Regions from separate parts of the Homo sapiens genome. Here all the other regions are linked to region 3. Evidence: fine-mapped expression QTL. A gene starts in region 3. Each other region holds a variant in brackets. All regions are shown on one strand. Distances are from middle to middle. Region 1 overlaps USP43 (ubiquitin specific peptidase 43). Region 2 overlaps CFAP52 (cilia and flagella associated protein 52). Region 3 holds the start of USP43 (ubiquitin specific peptidase 43).

Evidence for each region. PIP is the estimated chance that this variant, and not a neighbour inherited with it, causes the effect. A credible set is the group of variants that fine-mapping cannot tell apart.
Region 1: its variant is the best candidate, but not a certain one, in a credible set for the expression of USP43 in liver (GTEx, PIP 0.54).
Region 2: its variant is the best candidate, but not a certain one, in a credible set for the expression of USP43 in NK cells (Schmiedel 2018, PIP 0.61).

What each region holds. Positions count from the first base shown.
Region 1 is chr17:9,682,399-9,686,654 of GRCh38, forward strand. USP43 (ubiquitin specific peptidase 43) reads left to right here. Exons shown (of 15, transcript NM_153210.5): 7 at 425-560. Among named protein-coding and RNA genes, the nearest start is that of USP43, 39 kb to the left of the region's middle. The variant C/A (reference allele first, on the strand shown) is at 1,717.
Region 2 is chr17:9,581,216-9,585,435 of GRCh38, forward strand. All of the region lies in intron 1 of CFAP52 (cilia and flagella associated protein 52), which reads left to right. Among named protein-coding and RNA genes, the nearest start is that of CFAP52, 6.7 kb to the left of the region's middle. The variant T/C (reference allele first, on the strand shown) is at 2,367.
Region 3 is chr17:9,642,949-9,647,204 of GRCh38, forward strand. USP43 (ubiquitin specific peptidase 43) reads left to right here and starts at 2,569. Exons shown (of 15, transcript NM_153210.5): 1 at 2,569-3,188. The coding sequence starts at 2,685. It overlaps CFAP52 (cilia and flagella associated protein 52), which reads left to right. Exons shown (of 14, transcript NM_145054.5): 14 at 75-499. The coding sequence ends at 250. LOC124903924 (a long non-coding RNA gene) reads right to left here and starts at 2,479. Exons shown (of 2, transcript XR_007065615.1): 1 at 2,288-2,479; 2 at 882-1,559. LOC107985011 (a long non-coding RNA gene) reads right to left here. Exons shown (of 3, transcript XR_001752790.2): 2 at 3,979-4,109; 3 at 3,157-3,769. RefSeq lists a silencer at 2,442-2,501 and enhancers at 2,810-3,457, 4,147-4,256.

The sequences.
Region 1 (4,256 bases), 39 kb after region 3:
CTCTACTAAGAATACAAAAAAATTAGCTGGGCGTGGTGGTGCACATCCACAATCCCAGCTACTGGAGAGGCTGAGACAGGAGAATCATTTGAACCTGGAAGGTAGAGTTTGCAGTGAGCCAAGATTGTGCCACTGTACTCCATCCAGCCTGGGGGACAGAGCGAGACTCTGTCTTAAACAAACAAAAAACTATTGGGTGAACACAATTGCAAATTCACTACCATATTCTTGATGTTCGTATGCCAGGCGTCAGATGGCACAAATGCCATGAACCTCATTATCTCCTCCCCTAAAGCCCTCTAGTGGCCCCCCATTGGTGGTTAATAGATGCTCAAAGAGAAAGAGGGACTAGAGAAGCTAAGGCTCTGACCCAGGAAAGCAGCTCCTTTAGGAATATGAACAAATGTCATTCTCTCCCTTCTAGCTCATCCACTGGGTCTGTCGGCCTCCCCACGCCTGGCAGCCCGTGAGGGCCAGCGATTCTCCCTCTCTCTCCACAGTGAGAGCAAGGTGCTAATCCTCTTCTGTAACTTGGTGGGGTCAGGGCAGCAGGCTAGCAGGTATGTTTCACTTTATTCTTTTTTCATGTGGTGTCTGGGATTTGTAGACCTGTACTTGGGAGCCTGTCTAGAGTAAAATTAAACATTTATTCCCAAGGTTAATAAACTAGGAGCCAGAAGTAGGGTCCTTTCTGATTAAGAGGATTAGAAATATCTGCCTTAAGCATTTGGCTAACGTCATCATTCCTAACCATCAGACATCAGAGGCCTTCCTATTAATCGGAGGAACAATTTTTACTGCCTTCACCACTGTTATTTTATATTGTAAAACCTAGGCGGTGCAGTGCTAAAAGAAACTGGCTATAAGAAAAGAGGTGATAATTTGGTTGTCTGTCCAGAAAACCAAGAACTGGAAAGTGATTGGCAGTAAGGAAAGGGTTCAGGAAATTGATGGGTTATATAACAAATATACAAAAACAGATAGCTTTCTTATATAGCCCAAATAAAGTGTTTAAAAGACAGAATTACATTAAGATATATTTAGATGGATAAAATGTTTCTAAAAATGTATCTTGAATAATAAACTGGTAAAAACAAAAAGATTATTTAATAATAATTAAACTATTATTAATTAGCTCAGCTTTTAAAAATCAATTAGCCCAGCCTTACTTATTGAATAATTCATTAACTCTTAGTAATATGAAATACATCATTTTTATCATGTAATAAATACTTACAGATAGTTGGTCTATTTTGTTTGATTTAATTGCATATTCTTCTGCCTGTATTACAATATTTTAATAATTTCAGAATTATGGTATATTTCATATTACTACAGAGTGAGTGAATTGTTCAAAAGTAAGGCTGGGCTAATTGATTTCTTTGTTGCTTTTTATTTTAAATAGTCAACTTTTTACTCCTGCTATGAATTCACACGTATAAATTTCAGGTTGACTAGAGAGGTAACTAGAGAAAAGGAAGCCATGAAATAACTTAAAGATGGCCGAGGTGGGTGGATCATGAGGTCAGGAGTTCGAGACCATCCTGGCTAACACGGTGAAACCCCATCTCTACTAAAAGTACAAAAAACTATCCAGGTGTGGTGGCACGCACCTGTAGTTCCAGCTACTTGGGAGGCTATGGCAGGAGAATCGCTTGAACCCAGGAGGCAAATGTTGCAGTCGGCCGAGATTGCACCACTGCACTCCAGCCTGGG[C/A]GACAGATCGAGACTGTCTCAAAAAAAAATTAATAAATAAAAAATAAAAAATAAATTAATAAAGACAACATGGGAGAATATTTATGTCCTTGGGTGGGGGCTAGTTTAACATCAAAGTCAGGAGGCTGTAAAGGAAAAGGCTGATGTTTTAAATATATTTAAAAATTTAAACTAAAAGCAAATTTGAAAGGCAAAGGACAAATGAGGAAAGATATTTATGCCATGTGAGAGGTGAAGGATTTATGTCCATCCTCGAATTTTCCAGCTCTTGAAAATTAAGGAGATAAATACCCTTGGTGAAATGAACCACAGAGATGAACATTAGTTCACAGAAGAAATACAAGCATAGGTTAAAATATTCAGCATCAGCTTGGCACGGTGGCTCACGCCTGTAATCCCAGCACTTTGAGAGGCTGAGGCGGGCGGATCACCTGAGGTCAGGAGTTTGAGACCAGCCTGACCAATATGGAGAAACCCCATCCCTACTAAAAATACAAAAGTAGCCGGGCATGGTGGCTCACGCCTGTAATCCCAACTACTCGGGAGGCTGAGGCAGGAGAATTGCTTGAACCCGGGAGGCGGAGGTTGCGGTGAGCCGAGATTGTGCCACTGCACTCCAGCCTGGGCAACAAGAGTGAAACTCCATCTCAAAAAAAAAAAAAAAAAAAAAAATCAGCATCATTTGTAGTGGGAGAAATTCTGGTTGCAATAGCAAGATACTATTCTTAACCTCTTAGATTGTTAAATGATTTTTAGAAATTGATAATACTCATTCTGGGCCAGAGTCCGGGGAATCAGGTAAATTGGTATGGCTTCTTTGGAGGACAGTTTGGGAAGAAAGAGCTTTAGTCTTGTCTTTCTACTTCTGGAACTTTACCCTAAGGGAATAATTGTGCGCTCAAAGGTTATGTCCAAGGTTATATCTAGTTCCTGCGATAAGCAAGCATTGTTTAAATAAAAACTTGGAATGCCTCACAGTACAGGATGGATTAAGTAAACCGATCTGTCCATACAACAATGGACGCACAGTGCCCTTGCCTGTCCAGACAGATCACCTCATATTTGTGTTCTGCTTTAGCCAATTTTATTCAACAATTTCACATTCTTACCTCATTGGGTCTTCACACAGGCTGCAGCGAGGCCAGGAAGCAGTGAGTCGCTAGTGATTTGTCCAGGAGTACCCACGGCAGAGTTAGGGCCCATAGGCGCAGGCTCACCCAGCATTCTGTACACCATGAGCTCACTGCTGTGCGCTTACTATGTTGGGACATGGATACCATCCCAGTGATGAGAATATTCTCGATACCCCAACCAAAGTTGTGTCATCTGGATTTATGTCTCTGCCTTGCCTTCCCCTGGCTCCAAGCTTGTCTTACTCTATTCCCTGCTGTGAGTAAGAGATTTTGCCAGCTAGCTGGTCATTTTGAGTAATCTGTTTACACAGCAGCATCTACCTGGCTTTGTGTCACTGGGCCTCTGCTTACATTGCAGTGTCTCCATTTGTTACAAGGTTCTCTGATTGGCAATTTTGTATTGTGTTTGGCTTTAAAAAGCATTTACATTATTTTTAATCGACACATAATTGTACATATTTATGGGGTACGGAGTGATATTTTGATACATGTACATAGTGTGTAATGATCAAATCAGGGTAATTGGCATAACCGTCACCTCAAACATTTATCATTTCTTTGTGTTGGGAAGATTCAAAATCCTATCCTCTAGCTATTGAAAGCATACAATAAATTATTGTTAACAATAGTCACTCTATATTGCTATAGAACACTAGAGCTTATTTCTCCTATCTAGCTATAATTTTTATTCATTACCTAACCTTTTCCTAGCCCCCACTGGCGCCTCCCAGCCTCTAGTAGAACCACTATTCTACTCTACTTCTGTGACATTAACTTTTTTAGATTCCACATGAGGGAGTACATGCAGTATTTATCTTTCTGTGCCTGACTTATTTCACTTAACATAATGTCCTCCAGCCTCATCCATCTTGCCGCAAACAACAGGATTTCATTTCTTTTTTATGGGTGCATAGTATTCCGTTGTGTATATAGACCACATTTTCTTTTTCATTTCTTTTCCATTCATCCACCGATGTACACTTAGGTTGATTTGGAATCTTGGCTATTGTGAATAGCCCTGCAGTAAACACAGGAGTGCAGAGATCTCTTTGACATGATGATCTTTCCTTTGGATAAATACCCAGTAGTGGGATGGCTGGGTCACATGGTGGTTCTATTTTTAGTTTTTTGAAGAACCTCCATGCTTTTCTCCACGGTGTCTCCATTCCCACCAACAGTGTATAAGAGTTCCCTTTTCTCCATATCCTCACCAGCATTTGTTATTTCTTGTCTTTTTGATAATAGCCATCCTAACTGGGGTAAGATGATATCTCATTGGGGTTTTGACTTGCATTTCCCTGATAATTAGTGATGTTGGGCATTTTTTCATATGCCTGTTGGCTACGTGTGTCATTTTGAGAAATGTCTATTCAGACCCTTTGCCCATTTTTAAATGGGATTCTTTGG
Region 2 (4,220 bases), 62 kb before region 3:
CTGAGGCAGGAGAATGGCGTGAACCCGGAAGTGCTGGTTGCACAGCATTGTGAATGCACTAAATGCCACTGAATTGTTCACGTTAAAACAGTTAATTTTATGTTATGTGAATTTCACTCCAATAATTTTTAAAATTATATTCCTTTTGTGCAATTTGATACTGTACAATCCTTAAGAAAAATGGAATAGATGTATATAAACTAATGAGGAAAGATGTCAAAGATATATTAAGTATAAAATGCAATTTGCCATACAGTGTATATGATATGAGCCTATTACAGTTTAAAGTGTACATATGTTTGAGAGAGAGAGAGGGGATAGAGAGAGAGGAGAGGGAGGGAGGGACAGAGGGAGACAGAGAGGGAGGGAAAGAAGGCGAGAGAGAGAGAAAATGGAGTGTGTGTGAGTATGTCTGGAGAAGAGAGCAAAGAATATGAATTGTAGTGGACATGCGTAGTTTTGGTTACTCATATCTGAATACTATTCTATTTGAGAAGTATCCCAAGATAGGTAGGAGCTGGTTCTATTGCTTTAGTGAGAGCCTAAAAGAGGCACATATTTTCTCTCCTAATTCCTTGGCAGCCAATTGAGAGATGTAACATAATTGGCTCAGCCAATCAGACATTCCCACTCCGCAGTTCCACTCTTATAGGAGTGATGCAAAGGAGCATTGAGCGTTGAGCAGTGTGGCCATGAGAGGTCTTTAGTTCGTGTCACTTGGTCTCGCCTTGCTATTAGTTCTGCCCATTTTTCAAGTGTGACCCAAACTTCCTGCCAGTTGTGTGAGCAATATGTATTCCTTCCATATAATTCTTTTTCTGCTACATTTAGCCAGAGTTGACTCTTCTAGTTTGCAACCAAGAACCATAATTTTTAAATGCAAAAACAAAAATAAATCTGAAGAAATACACACCTGCATGTTACAAGGTTATCTCTGGGCAGGTTGCACACCTAAGAATAGAGTAGCTGGGTCCTGGGGCATGTGCGCATTCAAGCATCATCAATAAAGACACATTGTTTTCCAAAACGATTAGACCGATTTACTCTCCCACCAAGCATTTTATGAGTGTTGGCTTTGTTCCACATCAACACAGATGCCTGGTACTGTCAGCCATCTTAATTTTAGCCATTTTGGTGGATATGACATGGTATCTCATTTCGGACATAATTTACATTTTCCTGGTTACTTATGAGGTTGCATCTCTTTTTGTAGGTTTATTGGGTTTTGAATTTCCTTCAGCATAAACTGGCTATCCATATCCTTTGCTCATTTTTCTATTGAGAAGCATATGTTTTCCTTATTGCCTTGTAGGAGTTCTTCGTATATTATGGAGATGATCCTTTGTCTATTGTATACATTGAAAATATCTTCTTGTTTGTGTTTTTCTCTTCATCCTTCCAATAACAATGTCTTTAGTAATTAAATTTTTTGATTTTTTGAGAAAGAGTCTCACTCTGTCACCCAGGCTGGAGTGCAGTGGCACAATCTCAGCTCACTGCAACATCCACCTCCCAGGTTTAAGCGATTCTCCTGCCTCAGCCTCTCAAGTAGCTGGGATTATAGGTGTCCACCACTACGCCCAGCTAATTTTTGTATTTTTAGTAGAGACAGGGTTTCGCCATATTGGCTAGGCTGGTCTCAAACTCCCAGCCTCGAGTGATCTGCCTGCCTCGGCCTCCCAAAGTGCTGGGATTACAGGCATGAGCCACCCAGCCCAGCCTAGATGTTTTTCATTTTTCACATAACTGGGTAAATATTTCAGCCTTTTCTTTTATGATTTGCTCTTTTTGTGTCATAGTTGGAAAGTCATTTCTTACTTTTGTACACACTGTCTTGTTTTTCACATTTAGGTCTTTGATCTACCTGGAAGATATTGTTTGTGTAAGGTGTGAATTATGAATCTAAGTTTAATTTTTCCATATGGATAGCCATATGATTGTTTATAAAGAACCTGCAATTAGAAAACTATAAAAAATTTTTAGTAGGAATAGATCACCCTAAAGACATAAACCTTGGTATTATAAGAACATACTGCATAAAAAAGGAACACTCAATTAAAATGAAAAAAAATCATTTATTCAATAATTACATTTGGCCATTTGAGCAAAAATAATCCATTTAGCTACAGGAATCACATAAAGCACCAAAATAAATTCCAGAGGGAGTTAAATATAAAAGAAGCATTCATTTAAGAACAAGAAGATTATATTAATAAATATTTATGAGTCTTTCGATGGAGAAGGAGATAGCAACAAAAAAGTTTTTTAAAAACCCAAGAATAAATGTAATAAGAAATGAGTGAGATCTTTATGAAAAAAATGGAAAATGCTACTAGAAGGCATAAAAGGAGACTTATGAAGAAACA[T/C]ATCCTGTTTTTAAAATAGAGGTATTTTATATTATTATAAAAATCATTTTCCCTTAAGTTAATCTATACATTTAATACTATCTCACTAAAAACACAATCATGAATTTTAAATAGCCAAGGTGACATGCAAGTTTGTATTGTAAAATAAACACGAAGAGCAATCAAAAAAATTCTGACCATAGGTGAGCAATAATGGAGGACCTGGGTCTGTTTCATATTAAAACATATTACAAGGGTTTATAATTGTTGAGATGGTTCTTGGTATAACCAAAATCAAGTTTGGGCCACTTGTCACTTGAAAGCTAAAAACTCAAGAGATGAGCTTTGGTGAAAGGAAGGTTAGCTTTATTGGAGAAGCCAGCAACCCAGGGGAGACAATAAACTAGCGTTCAAAGACCACCTCACCGAGTTGAGTCTCTGAATCAGGGAAATTAGAGGAATAATGATCAAAGCATTTTTGTGAAACATGTGCAGTCTCAGGTAGGCAGTTAGTCAATATGTTGGGGCCTTCTGCAGATGCCATCTGCCCTGTTCTTACCAGGCTGGTCAGCCCATTCCCAGAGTTGTTGGTCATTGTATTTTCTTTTATTTTTGCTGAAGGTCCTGTTCTCCTGAAACTGTTTTTAGTGAATAAACTACCAACTCAAGCAAAACAATAATTACATTCAAGCATACAAACTTTTCTCTAACATGGAAGCAGTAGTGTTACCTTGGCAGATATTTGGAGTACGGGAGTTGCCTGTGGAAAGAGGTGTCACCATGAAAGGTCCCAGGCTCTTCAGAGCACCTGGTGGGCACTCAGAACTGAAACCGAAAGTTAAAAAAATTATTTTCCTGGTTATATTGAGGCATACTTGACATATTAAGGTTGTATCAATTTAAAGTGTATAACACAATGTGTTGATAGACATATACATTGTGAAATGATGTCTACGATCAAACTAATTAACATATTCACTTCACATAGTTACTTTTTGTGTGTGATGAAAACACTTAAGATCAACTCTTTTAGCAGATTAATGCAGTATTTTTTTTTTAATTTATTTGTTCATTTTTTGAGATGGAATTTTGCTCTTGTCAACCAGGCTGGAGTGCAATAGTGTGATCTCGGCTCACTGCAACCTCCGCCTCGTGGGTTCCAGTGATTCTCCTGCCTCAGCCTCCCGAGTAGCTGGGATTACAGGTGCCCACCACCAAGCCCAGCTAATTTTTTGTATTTTTAGTAGAGACCGGGTTTCACCATGTTGGCCAGGCTGGTCTTGAACTCCTGACCTCAGGTGATCCGCCTGCCTCGGCCTCCCAAGTGCTGGGATTACAAGGGTGAGCAACCGTGCCTGGCCACACAATGTAATATTACTTAGCCTTTAAAAAGAAGGAAATCATGCCATTTGTAAAGACATGGATTAACCTGGAGAATATTATGCTTTGTGAAGTAAAATAGGCCAAATTTTTATATTTACCCAACCTTTGCCTGAGGTAGTTGACTCCCATTCTCCCTATGCCTGTGCACTCACCCAAGCAGGCTGCTCACACTCCATGCATTCGTGCTTTTTAGGATTACGAGAATTGGCCGTAGGACTTGCTGGACCAGCATCAGCATCACTTAGGAGCTTATGAGAAATACAGAATCTCAACCCCTTCTCAGACCTGAAATCAGAATCTGCATTTTAACAGGATCCCTCAGGGATTTTTATAAACATCAAAGTTTAAGATGTGATTACTAGATGAACGTTTTTGTCAGTGAAATAAAATTACCTATTTCCCCAACTTCTTTTAGCTGAACTAAGGCTTATTTTTAAAGTGTTGGCCGGGCGCGGTGGCTCACACCTGTAATCCCAGCACTTTGGGAGGCTA
Region 3 (4,256 bases):
CCAGTTATTTGAAATCAGGGCTGTTTCTCTCTCTCCTATTGCAGCAATGCCATATACGTGTTTATCTTTTTCAGGTGGAAATGACCATCTGGTCAAAGTTTGGGATTATAATGAGGGTGAAGTGACTCACGTTGGGGTGGGACACAGTGGCAACATCACACGCATCCGCATAAGTCCAGGAAATCAATATATTGTTAGTGTAAGTGCCGATGGAGCCATTTTGCGATGGAAGTACCCATATACCTCCTGAAGCTGATGAGATGTCTCTGAGCCTTGGCGTTGCACGCAGTCCTGTTGAAGACTGAGTTTAGATAACTCCAACACTAGTCTTCATTTCTCACAGCTCTGTTTTTGTTCTTGAGTCAATTTTTCTCTTTTTCTTTATAGAATGCATTTTATATTCTTAAATTGCATATTAAAATTGAAGTATGTTCAAGAATAATTTGTGCAGACTCTAATTAGAACTTTTAACATTTTGAATAAATTCTTAGTTGTTGGTTTTCTGTTATAATTTGTTTTCTGCAACTCTGCAAAACCCACAGACCTTCCTCATGATCTGTGCACAGACAGCATTGCTATTATCCTCTAAAAATAAGGTGAGGTGAATTTCCTTCTTAATTGCCATTTCATTGGTCAAGCTATATGGGACTAGACTCAGATTTAAATCCAGATCTTGGGCAGGCTTCTTAAAAATTCTCTGAGCCACAATTTTCTCTTTTGTCAAGCAAGAGTAAGTTCCTGCTCAAAAGGTTATTGTGAGAATTAAGTGACTAATGTACTAAAGCATCGGCAGAATTCCTGACAGGGTAGAGAGAAATATGCATGCTTTCTCAAAGAAAATGTGTGGTGTTGGGGATCTCAGGACAATTACCAAAGAAAGATGAAATTACAGAGATGCTTTATTGGAGTTGGCCATTACATCTTTCTTCTGTGCTTTCCACCAGAAGGGTGATGAAATGGACCTTGTGTCCTTGTGTATTAATCACCCAGCCGGGTATCTTTTTCCAGAGAGGGGTAAATAATGGCATTTTCCAGAACGCAAGTCTCCGATTCACAGTACCGTCTGATGTTTTAAGCATGTTATTTATCCTTTAAGTAAGGCTGCTTTTTTGCATGAGGTAACTGCTGTAACCCGGTTTGAAAGATCAAGTTTTTTGTTTGTTTGTTTGTTTTTTGAGACGGAATTTAGCTCTTGTCGCAATTTAGCTCTTGTCGCCCGGCTGGAGTGCAATGGCGCGATCTCGGCTCACTGAATCAAGCGATTCTCCTGCCTCAGCCTCCTGAGTAGCTAGGATTACAGGCATGCGCCACCACGCCTGGCTAATTTTGTATTTTTAGTCGAGACGGGGTTTCACCATGTTGGCCAGGCTGGTCTTGAACTCCTGACCTCAGGTGATCCGCCCGTCTCGGCCTCCCAAGGTGCTGGGATTACAGGCGTGAGCCACCGCGCCCGGCCAGGATCAAGAATATTTAATAAATGATGATCACTTATTAAACAACAAGTAACATTTCAGAGCGTTAGAATACTGCATCTCACATGGTGCTGATCTCTTCCTGAGCTAGAAATTGACGAGAAAGTCATTTTGCAAGACCTTGCCTGATTAATTATAAACCTGACAGTTGCATGGGATAAAGTGAGGGGTGGGGGAGGGGCCCAGGGTTACCCAGGGAATCAAGGGCGGGGCAAGGCCAAACTAATTCTGATTGGGCAATCATTCAACAAGGATCGTGCGTTAAGGAGTGAACCAGAAACCGCGTAGGGGGCGCGCCTGAGAGCCTGAAAACTTCCTGGTTAGCAAATACTGAGGCTGGAAAGGGCCTGAACTTGGCAGTCCATAGATCCAGGTCGAGTTCCGGTTTCCCTGCTTACGGATCGGGCGGCCTCCCTACGTTGCGATAACCTCTCTGAGCCCCCTTCCTTGCCGATTAAAGCAAGGGTGATCAAGTCTTGCAAGTTTTTGGAAAATGATTCTAACCCAATCTGTGGTGTAAAAAAGCAAACCACAACCACTCGGGGGCTTTTTTCACAGGGCAACACGTGGCTCCCAGTTCAGGTCCCGGGTTGGCGGGTGCAGGCACAGACTCTGCCTCCCCCCAAGGGGCAGACGGTCTGGAAGGAGGTGGCGACACCTGTCCGCACACACCTGAGCCTGCGGAGGAACCAGCGGTGCACAAAAGCGCTCCCCACCCCCACACAGCGCCCAGCGCGCGCCTCTCACCACGCCCGAGGCTGTGCTCTGGAGATGCCTGCCTTGCCCTTTTCTTCCTGCAGTAGCCAGGCCTTTACCATTTACTAGGCGCTTTCAGAATGTTCATTTCTCCGTAATTTCCACTGCTTGAAGGCTGCTCGAGGAACAGGAGCAGCGGCGAAACCCAGGTCTGTCGGTTTACGAGGTAAGGAAGGGTGGGGAATCCGACCACGAAGACTCCCAGTCAGCGCAGCGGGGGCGGCACCAGGCAGGGGTAGGGGTGGCCCGGCGCTGCCCTGGAGGGGGCTGGTCGTGCCGCCGGATTCCCGCGCGGGGCGGGGCTGCCCCGCCCTTGGCTCCGCCTCCGCCCCGTCCCCGCACACCTGGCCCGCAGGTAGCCGGCACCAGGAGCCTTAGAGAAGCTGTAGGGCCTGCTGGCCGCTCGTCCGCCTCGCGCCCGGGGGCTCCGCGCCTGGAGCTGCGCCGGCGGCAGCCATGGACCTGGGCCCCGGGGACGCGGCAGGAGGGGGACCGCTCGCGCCCCGGCCCCGCCGCCGCCGCTCCCTGCGCCGCCTGTTCAGCCGCTTCCTGCTGGCGCTGGGCAGCCGCTCACGCCCCGGGGACTCACCGCCCCGGCCCCAGCCGGGACACTGTGATGGCGACGGTGAGGGGGGCTTCGCCTGCGCCCCGGGCCCAGTTCCAGCGGCCCCCGGGAGCCCCGGGGAGGAACGCCCGCCCGGACCCCAGCCCCAGCTCCAGCTCCCCGCCGGCGATGGGGCGCGGCCGCCGGGCGCTCAGGGCTTGAAGAACCACGGCAACACCTGTTTCATGAACGCGGTGGTGCAGTGTCTCAGCAACACCGACCTGCTGGCCGAGTTCCTGGCGCTGGGGCGCTACCGGGCGGCTCCGGGCCGCGCCGAGGTCACCGAGCAGCTGGCGGCGCTGGTGCGCGCGCTCTGGACTCGCGAATACACGCCCCAACTTTCCGCGGAGTTCAAGGTAGGCAGCGCTGCGCCGCCGACCGCCCTGTCCCCCTGGTTTCGCCTCTTGAAAAGTGTGTGCACGATCAGGAAAGGGTTTTCTTGGGGCCTTCTTTAAATGCCGTTGACCAGTTCAGCCCCGGATTACCGGCTTTGTTTTGAGTCGATGTGTTACGCTGTCGCTTGCTTATGTTTTCTTTGTAAATTAATTCTCCTAGGTATTTTGAGAGGGAGTGGGGTGAGCTGGCAGATTGAAGGGTAATCAGCGTTTTTGGATTCAACAAGCATTTGTTGAAGTATTGAAGGCTTGTGGGCCAGACAGTGTTCTAATGCCAGCTCTAGAGCTTCCAGTCTGGAATGATGTGGGGTAGGGAATGGGATGTTGAAGGCCAAGGCCTCAGAGGAAGGAGGTGATGCTTGCGTTGAGATCTGAATGATGAGAAGGATGCAGTCAGGGCAAGCTGTAGGACTAATCCAGGCAGGAGGAACAGCAAGTACAATTGCCATAGACCCGAAGGAGCTGAGTGCTGGAGACAGGGAAAGAAAAGCAGTGGCGTTGGAGCTTAGGAGGCAGATGAGTTTCGCCAGATCACGTAAGACCTAGGAGGCAACGGTAAAGAGTTTGGATTTTATTCTAAGCCCAGTGGAATCTGACAACCTACAGGCCAGGTACCGTGCTGAGTGCCCAGCAAAGGCAGTGAGCGTGCTATTTTGGAGATAGCATCCTTTTGTTTAAGGCGCATTCAATCCCCTACAATGTATGAGCACGGGCTTGCATTTTATTGTCTGCAAGATCACGGTCTACTTACTCGGGTTGCTGCCGGGTCGTGAGGCTTTGTAAATTGTTTGTATCACTTCACCCGGGATTAAAACGGGGTGTTTGTTTGGGGTCCCAGTTGGATTAAAGCGTTCCTGATAATTGATGCACATGGCTTGCTTCCTGCAAAAAAAAAAAAAAAAAAAAGAAAAAAAAGAAAAAAAAAGAAGAAGAAACCCGCAGCTCTGGGCAGAGAACTGAAGCTCCCTACAGACTAGTGATTGTTGTTCTTGGGGGAGGGGGAAACCTGTCAGTGTTCATTCCACAAGC